Linked DNA regions of Homo sapiens. The protein of the gene in region 1 interacts with the protein of each later gene in a pairwise test. Each region holds a gene or a part of one and is shown on either strand. Other genes may lie near its edges.

The links. Proteins that work in one complex are often made in the same cells at the same time.
Region 2: the proteins of SNX15 (region 1) and RTN4 interact in binary tests that used the Homo sapiens proteins (3 or more experiments, as listed by UniProt).

Annotation. Positions count from the first base shown.
Region 1 is NC_000011.10:65,030,425-65,037,453, reverse strand, and holds part of SNX15 (sorting nexin-15), read right to left. Parts: intron 5,287-7,029; coding exon 5,251-5,286; intron 5,024-5,250; coding exon 4,903-5,023; intron 2,608-4,902; coding exon 2,492-2,607; intron 2,396-2,491; coding exon 2,248-2,395; intron 1,935-2,247; coding exon 1,791-1,934; intron 1-1,790. UniProt on the Homo sapiens protein: May be involved in several stages of intracellular trafficking. Overexpression of SNX15 disrupts the normal trafficking of proteins from the plasma membrane to recycling endosomes or the TGN.
Region 2 is NC_000002.12:55,040,433-55,047,461, reverse strand, and holds part of RTN4 (reticulon-4), read left to right. Parts: intron 1-135; exon of another isoform or gene 136-646; intron 647-7,029. UniProt on the Homo sapiens protein: Required to induce the formation and stabilization of endoplasmic reticulum (ER) tubules. They regulate membrane morphogenesis in the ER by promoting tubular ER production.

The DNA.
Region 1 (7,029 bases):
TGAGTCCAGGAGCTTGAGACCAGCCTGGGCAACATAGTGAGATCTCATCTCTACAAAAAATCAAAAACTTAGCTGGGCATGATGGTGCATGCCTGTGGTCCTGTCCCAGCTATTTGGGAGGCTGAGGTGGGAGGATCGCTTAAGCCTAGGAGTTGGAGGCTGCAGTGAGCCGTGATCGCACCACTGCCCTCTAGCCTGGTGACAGAGCCAGACTCTGTCTCAAAAAATAAATAAAAAAAAATAAAAAAATTAAAAAGGAGAGGAAAAAAAATAGAAAAGCTCCTGCCCAGGCAGCTAGCTGCCCAGCAGGGACTCAGCTGGCACAAGGACAGAGCACTTGGATGCCTGCCACCCAGAGGCCAGGCATAACAGCCCTGTGACACCAACATTGCCTTTCCCTCCCATTCCTTCTTCCCACTCCCCAACCCTGGAGAGGCAGGAGCAGGAACGGGAGGAGGCAGAACAAGAAAAGTGAAAGAGGCAGGGCATTTTGGCTCACGCCCGTAATCTCAGCACTCTGGGAGGCGGAGGCAGGTGGATCACTTGAGTGTCAGGAGTTTGAGACCAGCCTGACCAAAATGGTGCGACCCTGTCTCTACTCAAAATACAAAAATTAGCCAGGCGTGGTGGCGCGCGCCTGTAGTCCCAGCCACTCAGGAGGCTGAGGCAGGAGAATCGCTTGAATCCGGGAGGCGGAGGTGGGAGTGAGCTGAGATCGCGCCACTGCACTCCAGCCTCGGCAATCCAGAGCAAGACTCGATCTCAAAAAAAAAAACGGGCCAAGCGCGGTGGCTCACATCCGTAATCCCAGCACTTTCAGAGGCTGAGGCGGGCGCACCACCTGAGGTCGGGAGTTTGAGACCAGCCTGACCAACATGGAAAAATCCCATCTCGACTAAAAATACAAAATTAGCAGGCACCGTGGTGCGCGCCTGTAGTCGCAGCTACTCAGGAGGCTGAGGCAGGAGAATCGCTTGGACCTGGGAGGTTGCAGTGAGCAGAGATTGCGCCACTGTACTCCAGACTGGGCGACAAAGTGAGACTCTGTCTCAAAAAAAGAAAAAGAATAACAGACATGGACTCTTGCTATATTGCCCAGGCTGGTCTTGAATTCCTGGGCTCAAGCAATCTTCCTGCCTCAGCCTCCCAAAGTGTCGAGATTACAGGTGTGAGCCAATGTGCCAGGCGTTGGCAAATTTTAGAATGAAAAACTCCAGTGTCTCAGAGCTTGGGACTGTCGAGTCCCAGGATCTCACAGCAAGAAGGTGCCCAGGACCCTGACCTCCATTGGGGGGGCCCTTCTACCTCCAGCATCCCCAAATGCCAGTGGCTCCAGGCCCCCAGAGGGATTTCCCTTTGCAGCTGCCCTTTGAGCTGAGAACTCACTCCCATTGACCAGCAGGCCTCTTGCCTTCAGGATCTGCAGCCAGACCCTGGCCAGTCAGGAAATCCCACCAAGAGCTTGCAGGGAAGGAACTAAAATGTCCCAGAGCAGTGTGACCCGGCTCTTTCCAAAGCCTTCTCAGTGAGATGGCCCCAACATGGGAAGTGCCTCCTTTCCTTCCTCGTGGCTATTTGTTGCACAGGTGCATCCAGCACACCACACCACGTGCCCTGGCACAGGGCTTCTAATTCTCATTGAAGCTGCTATTGGCCCACAGGGCAGCACTGCTGAGGAGACGTCTCTCCCTGATCTGCGCAGGCACTGAGCAGGCTAGTGGGGCTCTGCCCTCCTCCCTGTCCCAAGGACGTCCTGCCCTGGCTCCTTCCCGGCTGTCCCAGCTCATTACCTTCCTTGGAGAAGGGGTCGAAGAGGGCAAGCTCAGCCTCGGTGAGGGGGCCTCGGGCAGGGGAACCAGATGCCTCCTCGGTGCTCTCACAGTTAAAGAGGAGATCCAGGGCCTCCTGGGCAGGGCTGGATGGTGGGGGGTCCACTGAGGAAGAGATAAGTGGGGTCATGAATACCTGCGTTTATTTCTCAGCTTTCAAAATAGAATTACTCTCTCCTTAAACCCTTGCAGCAACCATGGGCATAGACAAGCCTGTTATTAGGGTTTGTGCTCATTTTACAGATCAAGAAACTGTAGCACAGAGAAGGAAAAGGACCTGCCCAAAGTTCCTCAGCCAGTTAAGTGATAGACCTGGGACACACACACATTTCTCAGTAAGATCACTGAGGAGGGAGTGTGGCCGCCCTCCCCACTCTGCACCCTCCAGCCCTGGTTCCCTCCTCCCACCCCGATGTACCTGGCACCTCCAATTCCTCGAGGCCCCTCCTTTCTGCAGGGAGCAGTTGGGATAGCCGGGGGTCATCAGGGGGCGGGGTGGGGATCAGAGGGGGTGGCAGGATGTGTAGGTCCCTGGACACCTCCAAGGGTCGGGTCACCTCCCCACCCTGCAGGACAGAAAGATCAGACATGGGGAGTCATGGGGTGCAATCTGGTGGGTGGGTAAGTGGCCCAAGTTCTGGGAAGGTGGAAGGTGCACATACCCGGAAGAACTCCTTGAGCTGGGGGCTGTTGTTGAGCGCAGGTATGTGCACAGTGAAGCGAAGCAGGTCCTCTGCCCCCTTTCGCCGCTCCTCGATCACTGAGGCTTCAAACCGGCCTACGGCCCCCAGGACAAGGAACAGGGGAGAGTGGCGGTGACCCACAGGGGCTTCTGCCCCAAGGCCACTTTTCCTGGTCCTGCCTGAGATGCTCTGAGCAACTCACTGCCCTCCTACCCATTCTCCCAGCAATCTGCCCTGGTTCCTCCTGGGGTGAGGTAGGGGCTTCCAGGAGGGATCAATTTCCCTATTCATTCATTTGCCAGATGTTTACTGAGCACCTACTATATGCTAGACTCAGAAGGTGAACAGGGGAGGAACCAGTCTCTGCCCTTGTGAATATCATATCCTACCCAGGGGGAGCTAGGCAGTTAACAAGAAACAAAAGCATTTCTGATGGCTTTGATCTAATGAGAAAAGTAAGGCTCAGAGAGGGAAAGTGACTTGCCCAAGGTCACAAAGCAAGGAGCCCCCGTTTATTTTTTGAGAAAAGGACTGGCTGTGTTACCCAGGCTGGTGTGCAGTGGCACGATCTCAGCTCACTGCAACCTCTGCCTCCTGGGATCAAGCCGCCCTCCCGCCTCAGCCTCCCAAGTAGCTGGGACTATAGGTGCACACAATCATGCCTGGCTAATTTTTGTATTTTTTGTAGAGATGGGGTTTTACCATGTTGCCCAGGCTGGTCTTGAACTCCTGAGCTCAAGTGATTACCTTGCCTTGGCTTCCCAAAGCACTGAGATTACAGGTGCGAGCCACAGTTTCACTGCTCTGTCCTAGGTATTTTGCAGAGCAGGCTAACTCTGGTCCAGTTACTGTGCGGCCAGTCTGTGGTACTTCCCCACTGGCCTGGCATAACCTGACAGCAGCAATCCTTTACCTTGCTTCAAAAGAACATCTCGGCCAGGTGCGGTGGCTCACACCTATAATCCCAGCGTTTTAGGAGGCCGAGGCAGGTGGATCACTTGAGGTTAGGAGTTCGAGACCAGCCTGGCCAACATGGTGAAACCCTGTCTCTACTAAAAATAAAAAAAAATTAGGTGTGGTGGCGCACACTACTTGGGTGGCTACTTGGCTATTTGGGAGGCTGAGGCAGGAGAATCGCTCAAACCTGGGAGGCAGAGTTTGCAGTGAGCTGATATCATGCCACTGGACTCCAGCCTGGGTGACAGAGTGAGACTCTGTCTCAAAAAACAAAAACAAAAACCAATAACAAAAAAGAACATCTCACATGAGTATGCAGACCCAAGCAACTGGTCAGCACTGTCTAATACAGATATGAGCTACATATGCAATTTTAAATTTTCTAGCAGCTAGATTAAATAATAGGAAAAAAGAAACAATTTTTTTTTTTTTTTTTTTTTTGAGACGGAGTCTCACTCTGTCGCCTGGGCTGGAGTGCAATGGCACACTCTTGGCTCACTGCAACCTCTGCCTCCCAGGTTCAAGCGATTCTCCTTCCTCAGCTTCCTGAGTAGCTGAGATTACAAGCACTTGCCACTACACTCAGCTAATTATTTGTATTTTTAGTAGGGACGGGGTTTCACCACGTTGGCCAGGCTGGTCTCAAACTCCTGATCTCGTGATTCGCTTGCCTCGGCCTCCCAAAGTGCTGGGATTACAGGTGTGAGCCATCACACCTAGCCACAAGTTAATTTTAATATTTTATTTAACCCAATATATCCCAAATATTCTCATTGCAACATGTAATCAATATACTAAGTATTGAGATGGGCCGGGTGCAGTGTCTCACGCCTGTAATCCCAGCACTTTGGGAAGCCAAGGCGGGCAGGTCAGCTGAGGTCAGGAGTTCAAGACCAGCCTGGCCAATATGATGAAACTCTGTCTCTACTAAAAATACAAAAATTAGCCAGGCGTGGTGGTGCACACCTGTTATCCCAGCTACTGGGGAGACTGATGCAAGAGAATCCCTTGAACCTGGAAGGTGGAGGTTGCAGTGAGCCAAGACAGCGCCACTGTACTCCAGCCTGGGTGACAAAGTGAGGCTGTCAACAACAACAAAAAAGAAAAAGGAAAATAAAATGGAGCTGATAAAGACAGGATTTTTTTTCCTTTGAGATGGAGTTTTGCCTTGGCCTCCCAAAGTGCTAGGATTACAGGCGTGAGCCACACGCCTGGCCCAACAGGAATGTTAAAAGGTGAAATACACAGTAAGGGTTAGGCTACTCTGAGCCTCAGTTTCCCCATCTGTCAAATGAGGTCATCTCTAAGGGCCCTTCCAAACATGACTCTGCCCAGGGTTTCAGGCCCTCTCTATCCAGCCCCCACTGGCGGAGGTCCCCTTTTGCCCAATGCTCCCTCCATCTTTGGCCCGAGTGCCCCAATCTAACACTCACCAAACACCTGGGCCCGGGGGAAAGCAGGGAACTCCTCGAGGCGGCGGAAGAGGTTGCGGTGGGTGTAGGCCAGGTCTCCATGCAGCTTGCGGAAGTCGCTGTACCGCTTCCAGACCACCACCTATGAGGTACATGAGACTTGCCCAGAACCAGCAATGGTGGGAGGCAGCCGCCCCCATGCCTAGCCTGCCCCCAGGGGGCGTGAGGATCAGGAAGCAGCTGCAGCAGCCCCTCGCCCAGGGACAGGGAGGAAGGAGGGCCGATGTCCAAGCAGAGTTACCAGCTGCCCCTTGACAGTTTCCAGATCTGGAACTGCAGAACAGTCCCTCTTCCTCCCAGGAGCCTCACCTCTTTGACATCCTCTGGGTCCTTCTTTGAGATGAACTGAGAAAGAAAGGCAAGAGCTGGTTGAGACCAGAGACTGCCATCTGACACCCTCTCACCCTGTAATGCCCCAGGTGCCTCCTAGTCCCCCTCACGGGGCAGTAGCCTTTGGCCATTGGCCTCTGGCATCAAGGCACCCTGGCTTTAAGCCTTCGCGTGTAATTTTAGCAACTTTTCCTACTATGTACCTCAGTTTCTCCATCTATCAAATAGGAGGACCCCTAAAGGCCCATTTGGACTGCTCCAACCTCAGCCCAACTTTTTTTTTTTTGAGATGGAGTCTCGCTCTGTCGCCCAGGCTGGAGTGCAGTGGTACACTCTCGGCTCACTGCCACCTCTGCCTTCAGGGTTCAAGCGATTTTCCTACCTCAGCCTCCCAAGAAGCTACAGACATGCACCACCACGCTTGCTAATGTTTGTATTTTTAGTAGAGATGGGGTTTCCCCATGTTGGCCAAGCTGGTCTGGAACTCATGACCTCAAGTGATCCGCCCGCCTCAGCCTCCCAAAGTGCTGGGATTACAGGCGTGAGCACCCGGCCATCAGCCCAATTTTTATCCCAGTTCCTTGAACAGACCAAGTCCCTCCATCTACTTCTGAAACCAAAGAACCCCAAGCCTCCAAAGAAGGGAGGTTCTGCCTCAGGAACCTCCTTCCCTGCGGGAGAAGATCCTGCGCTTCAGCGCCCTGGACACAGAAGAAACCATCACTGGAGTTGAAGTCCCTGGAAGGGCAGACTTGGGTCTGAGGTGAAAACAAGATTCAGTTTTCATCGTTATGTTCATAATAATTTTAAAATAATGTCCTATGGTTTGGGGTACTTGACAGTTTAATAACATCTCCTATGCCAGGCACGGTGGCTCACACCTGTAATGCCAGCACTTTAGGGGGCCCAGGTGGGCAGAGCACTTAAGTCCAGGAGTTTGAGGCCAGCCTGGGCAACATAGTGACACCCAGTATCTGCAAAAAATACAAAAAATTAGCTGGGTGTGGTGGCGTGACACACCTGTAGTCCCAGCTACTTAGAAGGCTGAGGTGGGAGGATCACTTGAGCATGTTAAGCAGAGGTTGCAGTGAGCTGAGATTGCACCACTGCACTCCAGCCTGGAGAGAGTGAGACCCTGTCTCTCACACACTAAATAAATAAATAAAAACATCTATTTCTTATCCTAGATCCCACTGAGGCAGACATAATTGACATGCCCACTTAAGAGATGAGGAAATGGAGGCTCTGAGAGGTGTGGCCATAGTAGACCACACACTAAGTAAGAAAGATGGCTGGGACTAAAACCCTGGACTTTGCTTTTGACAACAGAGACTTGCCTAAAATATTCTGGTAAAAGAAACTATTTAAAAGCCATTGAGTGGCCAGGTGTGGTGTCTCATGCCTGTAATCCCAGCACTTTGGGAGGCCGAGGTGGGAGAATCACTTGAGGTCAGGAGTTCGAGACCAGCCTGGCCAACCAACATGGTGAAATCCTGTCTCTACTAAAAATACAAAAATTAGCCAGGCGTGGTGGCAAGTGCCTGTAGTCCCAGCTACTCAGGAGGCTGAGGCAGGAGAATCACTTGAACCCAGGAGGCAGAGGTTGCAGTGAGCTGAGATCATGCCACTGCACTCCAGCCTGGCAACACAGTGAGACTCCATCTCAAAAAAAAAAAAAAAATTATAGGCCAGGTACGGTGGGTCATGGTGGCCTGTAATCCTAACACTTTGGAAGGCCAAAATGGGAGGATTGCTTGA
Region 2 (7,029 bases), on another chromosome or scaffold:
TTAAAGGTCTTAGAAGATGAGGAGTAACTCAATCTTTTCCTTTTTCTTTATGAAAAAGACATACTTGAGGGAAACTGAGGTAAGAGAAAAATATGAAATATATTTTTAAACAGGAATTTTTTTTTTTTTTTTTTGAGATAGTCTCCCCCTTGTCACCAGGCTGGAGTGCAATGACGCAATCTTGGCTCACTGCAACCTCCGCCTCCCAGGTTCAAGTGATTCTCCTGCCTCAGCCTCCCGAGTAGCTGGGATTACAGGCGCCTGCCACCACGCCTGGCTAATTTTTGTATTTTTAGTAGAGACGGGATTTTACCATGTTGGCCAGGCTGGTGGTCTTGAACTCCTGACCTCCAGTGATCCACCCACCTTGGCCTCCCAAAGTGTTGGGATTACAGGCATGAGCCACTGCGCCTGGCCACAGGAAGTTTAATGATTGACAAAAGCATACTAATCTTGTATTGGTATGGGAACAAAGAAAATAGTTCTGTCTTTGAACATTAGGGATTCAGGGGGTGACAGCACTCTCTTGGAATCTTGTGTGTTGGAATGCTGAGGTTGGAAGGCAATGGGGAAAGAATATTGCCTGTTCTACAGAGTTCCCTAATTCCATATTGATGATACCTATTGGGAAACTTTAGTTTTTTTAGTAAGTGTAAGAACATTGTGATTATGGTTGTGGATAGTTAACCATTTTCAATGTGTCTGGATTTCTTAATGCATTCAAGAGTTTGTTCATTAATTCAACCCATTATTGATTACCTACCAAGAGACAGGATCTATTCTAAGCTTTGAGGGTATAGCAATAAGCAAGACACATGCTCCCCCTTGGGAGAGTACAGATAATAAGCACATAAATAAAGAACCCAGAATAGTGGTGTTATGAGGAAAATAAACAGGATAATGGCATAGAGAATGATGGGGATTTATGGGGGCTTTTTTAGGTTAGGTGACACTAAGACAGGCTTAGAAGGTGAGATTTGAGCTGCAGAGAGAAAACATTTCCAAGCAACTTCAGGGCAAAACCCTGAGGCAGGAATGAGCTCTTTGTGTCTGAGAATCTAGTGTAAGACTAGTGAGAAAAACTAGTGGGAGAGTGAAGAGGTGGCCTTACCCACCCAGATCATTGGGGGTCTCTAACAGGCAATGGTAAAAATGTTTAGCTTTTTAAAAAAATAAAAATATGCTTATTAAATAATTATATTGTGATTTTGGAACTAAAATAAGTTTGGAAGATTCAGGGCTACTGAGAGGACTGATGTGAGACAAAGGTGAGAAATGTGCAGAGCAGGGTTAGAAGCATAGACTAGCCTGCCTGGAAGAGAGGGTTTCTAGATCACTGACACTTGTCTGTTTAACATTGCTGTTTACGTTATTTATGAGTAAGCCCTGATTTTCATCTGTTAATAAGTTGTAATTTTACTGTTTGCTGTTGTGCCCAGAGCATCTCCATCGCAATGCAGTAACTGAAGTGAGACTAAAACCTCTCACTTGAGGGCCATTTTTCATGGGAAAATACTTGGCTTAGTGGTTGGTTAAGTTAGGCTTTGAGGATATGCGCAGAAAACTCTGGCTAGAAATCGATTTGAGAGCAGTGCAAACATAATTAAGGGTGACTTCGAACTGGTCTCTGGACATGTTCTAAACCAAGGTTAATTAAGACCGAAAATATGTAGATCTGGATTCTGAAAGATACTGAATGCCAAATTAAGGAATTTGGATTTTATCATTCCACTTTAATCCATGCTCTGCTATCCAGTTGCCCTTGCTTTTGGTAATTTATATTATGAAACCAAAATTGTTTTTTTTAATTGTTGTTTCTAAAGTTATTGTTTTTCACCCCTTCTCGAATTAGAGCTTTTGGCTTTGGGAAGACAGCCATTGAAGGTTATTTGAACTGAGGCAAGGCACCGTGAAAGCAGTATTAGAAAATTGGTGACAATATTCAAGATAGGTGGGAAGGAAAAGCAGATGAATTATTTAGAAAGCTATTACAGTAGTTCTGAGAAAGATGAGTAGGGCCTGAACTATTTCATTATTTGTTCATTCAGTGAAAATGGAATAGAAGGGAGGAATATAAGAGTATAAGAAGCACGCTTTCTTTAATTGGCTGTGAATCTGTTTTTATAGTTAGTTTACGAAGAGGCTGTATGAAAGACGAATTGATAGGACTTGGAAACCATGAATGTAAAGACAAAGAAAAGAATATTAGTGCTTATTAAATCAGTTTCAGAGACTGCCAAAATTTAATTGCCATGAAAATTTGTATAAAATTGAATATTGCTCATAAATACAGATTATGGGTTGGGGCTTAAAAATTACTAGTTTTTACTATCATGAAGCCATTTATTATATGATCATTTTTATTGGCGTAGTAGCATGTATTAGAAATTTTAAGATTTTGAGTGACATATGGTTTAAATATTAGGTATCAGTTCTTAATATAAAGTCCAAGTTCCCAGGAAGTGGATGCTTCTAAACACAAGAAAGTCATGCCCTGTCCATTCCCCACTTTCATTTTTGTGATTCTGAATAATTTCTGGTTAAGCCATTTCTTATTTTTAAAAGTTGGGAATAAGTAGTATACTCCTCATGGATATGGTGAATTATGTTTCAGATTGGTTCCTGGGCAACTGAGTGTCAAATTTGTGGTCTTTTTTTTTTTTTTTTTTTTTTTTTAGTGATTTGCAAACTCTCTCAAATCCTTTTTAAAATGAAGTGATGGGTATATGTGGAACCACTGATAAATAACTGCATGGAATAGTGTTTAGAAAACATGCTATTTTAGTGCTATATTATTGTAAACTTAAAGGATTTGCCATGTTATAAAAACATTTCTGAAAAGGAGCATGTTACCTATTGTCCATTAATTGGCTTTGTTTTATGTGTAGTTATTTTCTTTTTAAAAATCTAAAAACCAAAAAACAATGGTCTCACTTTTGTCCAGGCTGGTCTCAAACTTGGGGCCTGAAGCAATCCTCCTGCCTGGACCTCCCAAAGTGCTGGGATTACAGGCATGAGCCACCATGCCTGGCAAGTTTTTTTGTTTGTTTGTTTGTTTGTTTGTTTCTTTTGAGACAGAGTCTTACTCTGTCGCTCAGGCTGGAGTGCAGTGGCATGATTATGGCTCACTATACCCTTGACCTCCTGGGCTTAAGCAGTCCTCCCACTTCAGCCCCCCAGGTAGCTGAGACTACAGGTGCACACCACCATGCTGGCTATTTTTAAAATTTTTTAAAAAAACTTTTATATTTATGTATTTATATTTTGGAGACAGGGTCTTGCTCTTTCACCCAGGCTAAAGTATAGTGGTGCAGTCTTGGCTCACTGCAGCCTCATCTTCTGGGCTCAAGTGATCCTGCCACCTCAGCCTCCCAACTAGCTGGGACCACAGGCACGTACCACCACGCCCGGCTAATTTTTGTGTTTTTCGTGCAGATAGGGTTTCGCCATGTTGCCCAGGCTGGGCTCAAATTCCTGAGGTCAAGCAGTCTTCTCGAAGTGCTGGGTTTACAGGCGTGAGCCACCACACCCAGCCTAAATATATTTTTATTTTTATTTTTATTTTATTTTATTTTTGAGGTGGAGTCTTGCTCTGTAGCCCAGGCTGGAGTGCAGTGGCGCAATCTTGGCTCACTGCAACCTCCACCTCCTAGGTTCCAGCAATTCTCCTGCCTCAGCCTCCCGAGTAGCTGGGACCACAGGCATGTGCCACCACACCTGGCTAATTTTTGTATTCTTAGTAGAGACGGGGTTTCACCATGTTGGCCAGGCTGGTCTTGAACTCCTGACCTCAGGTGACCCACCTGCCTCGGTGTCCCACAATTCTGGGATTACAGGTGTGAGCCACTGCTCCCAGCCTTATTTTTATTTTTTTAAAGATGGGGTCTTACTATGTTGGCCAGGTTGGTCTTGAACTCCTGGGCTCAAGCAGTTCTCCCACCTCGACTTCTGAAAGTGTTGAAATTACAGGTGTGAGCCACTGTGCCCCGCCATTTATTTTCATAATATACCTTCAAGCAACTTATTAGAATAACTTGATTCAAAGCCTCAATTTAATGGTTCCTTTTTAAGGTACTTTGCTAGCCCAGGATAAAAGTATAAACTGAATGGCTATTTCTTGATTCTTCCCTGGAACCCTTAAATAAATAGAAGTAAATGTTGCAGATATACTATACTTATGGTACATTCTTTGAGACTTTTTGTTCCTGTTTCTAAAGGGATCAGGTTCTTCTGAGGATGACAGCACTAGGGATGGGAACTGTAATGGTAAAACCATAGTTCTCAGTAGTGTTTGAATGAATGTGACCTTTGTGGATAGCTAGTGCAGGACATAGGTATGCAAAATGATGAGACCCAGCTTTACTGATGCTAAGATTTTCTCAGACTAATGCCATCATCATCCTTTTTAACCCCAAAGGAGGAGTTGATAATTTCATATTTAAGCTATTGATATTTATGTTTCTTGGAATGATGATCATTGATTTTTAAGTTGCTTTCATCACGTGTTTCCATAATATTCTGTTCTTACCTCTTCATAGTATATATCATTCTATATAAGGTAATGGTATGGTTACTGATTTCTTTCCTCCACCAGACAGTGTACTCCTTGAGGAAAGGTGCTGTGACCTTTTTCTTTGAGGAAAAGGACTGTATGCATTGTGTCTGCATTGCAGTGCCTTAGATGTGATAGGCACTCAGTTTGTTGAATGAGAAAGATGCTGATCTTCATATTCTGTATAGTTCTAGAATTACTATAATATCTTCTCTCAATAAAAATCCCAAATCTTACGAAAGCATTTATTTATTTATGTATACAAGGTAACAATTCCAAACAGTACTACAAGAATACACAGAAAAGTAACTCTTTCTACCTGTTACCCAGATTTCCACAAATTGTCTTCTGTAGATCCACCCTCTGTTAGTAGTTTCTTGAGTATCTGTTTAGAGATAATCTGTGGATAAATATTTATTTATACATGTATATCCTTTTCACTTTATTTTCCACAAAAATAGATGCAGAGGACTCTGGGGATGTACCATATTTTATTTAATCAGTCCCTTATTGATGGTTATTTAGGTTGATACTTAGTTTTTTCTCTTACAAATACTATTTCTGTGAACACTCTTGTATACACTTCTTTGGGAATACATGCCATTATATATGTTGTAGGATAAATCTGTGCAAGTAGAATTACTGCTTCAAAGGATATTTGCATTTAAAATGTTGGTAGCTAATGCCAAAGTGTCATTCAAAGAATGGTTCCAACCTTTATTCCCACCAACCTGTTAAGGTACCTTTTCCCTTATATCTTTACCAACACAGTATATTAGTGAACTAATACATTGTTTAGCAAATTGTTCTTTTAAATTTGAGTCATTTTTCATAGGCTTAGGTGTCAAATTTTTTCTGATCACAGCTTTTGCCTATTCTTTTGGGTTTTTGGTCTCATGTATGTAGATTCACTTAATCTGCATTGTAAGGAAACTAGCCTTTTGTCATATGTCTTGAAAACTTTTTATTGATTTGTTATTTGTATTTTGACCATATGGTATGTTTTTCTGTTTAGAAATTTTTATGTAGTCAGATTTATCATTTTCTTTTATGACTTTGAGTCATAAAAGTGAAAAAAGTCATTGAGTTTTATGTAATCCTTAGAAAATCCTTCTTGAGGATCATAAAAATTTTCCCCCATGTTTACTCCTAGTAAGTACTTTTATACTTTTTATGATTTCATTTTAACATTTAATTATTTGATTTATTTGCAGTTTGTTTTGTTCTAGAGAGTGAAGTAGTGAAATAATTTTATATTTCAAGATTATTTCCCATTTGTTCCAATACCTTTTATTTTGAATTATCCTTCTTAACCACTTTGAAGTACCATTTTTGTCATATTCTTGTAGTATGGGTGAAATATTTCCTCTGCTTTTCCATTTATCTGTCAGTTCACACAGAAGTATCAGACTGTTGTGCTATAATTTTTAAATACTAGCTAAACGGCTTTTCCATAAATATTTTTCTTGGCTATCTTATGTGTGTATAATTTTCTACTTCATCTTAAAATTTTTTTTATCTTGTCCCCTCTCCCTCTGTTGGAGTTTTAGTAGGTTGCATTACATTTATGGATTAATTTTGGGGAGAATTGAAATACATTCGGTGTTGATATTGTGTATTTTTCCATAAACACGTGGTTTTTATTAACATGTATTTAAAAAAAATTTAGCATATAATTAGGTGAACTAGAGACTTTTAAAAATAAATATTCTAGCCTCCTTGTAACATACTGAATTATACAGGTATTTGGCTCTCTCTTTTCAATTGATAATTGACTGAGAAAGAAAGCTAAGTCTTCCTGCTTTTTCATTTCCAAAAAAAAAAAAAAATTGTGTTGAGAAAGAAAGAAATATTCTCTGTACTCTTGTATTAGGAGCTATAGCTGCCAAATACTGGATTTTTTTTTTTTAAAGCAGTCTCTTTACATAGGTGGCCCTCTACTTTTCAAAAATAATTATTTCTTTAATAGCTTGTTTTTCTCATTGATGGAATTGTTACCACAGATACAGAAAGTTTATAAAGTTTTGTTGTTCAAGAGTTTGGAGTTGCTGCTTATATTGGTGGTCTCTTGGAAGTTCAATATTAAGAAAAAAATTAATATATTCCTTTTTTTTTTTAACTAGGCCTAGGGCTGAGTAAGAGGACAAGAAAGATGAATAGAGGTTGTACTTATGAGAGGTATAGGTAGCAGATGAAGGAAAAAATACAGGCCCTTAGTTGTAAAGAATTTTCTGCTCTTAAAACCAGAGGAGTTTTGTGATTGGCCTTACAGGACATATTTACAGATCTGTGAACTGCTTTTGTGGAAAGAGAGAAGCTTACTTAAGGATTCCAGGTCTGCCTACGTGTTCTTTCTCCCCAACTTTGTAGGTTGATTTATAAACTCGCCTAAATGGAAGGTGCCATTATTGAGTTCATTTATCTCAGTGCCCTGACAACCGTAGATGGAGGTGACCTAAAAGTGTTACAACTTTTTT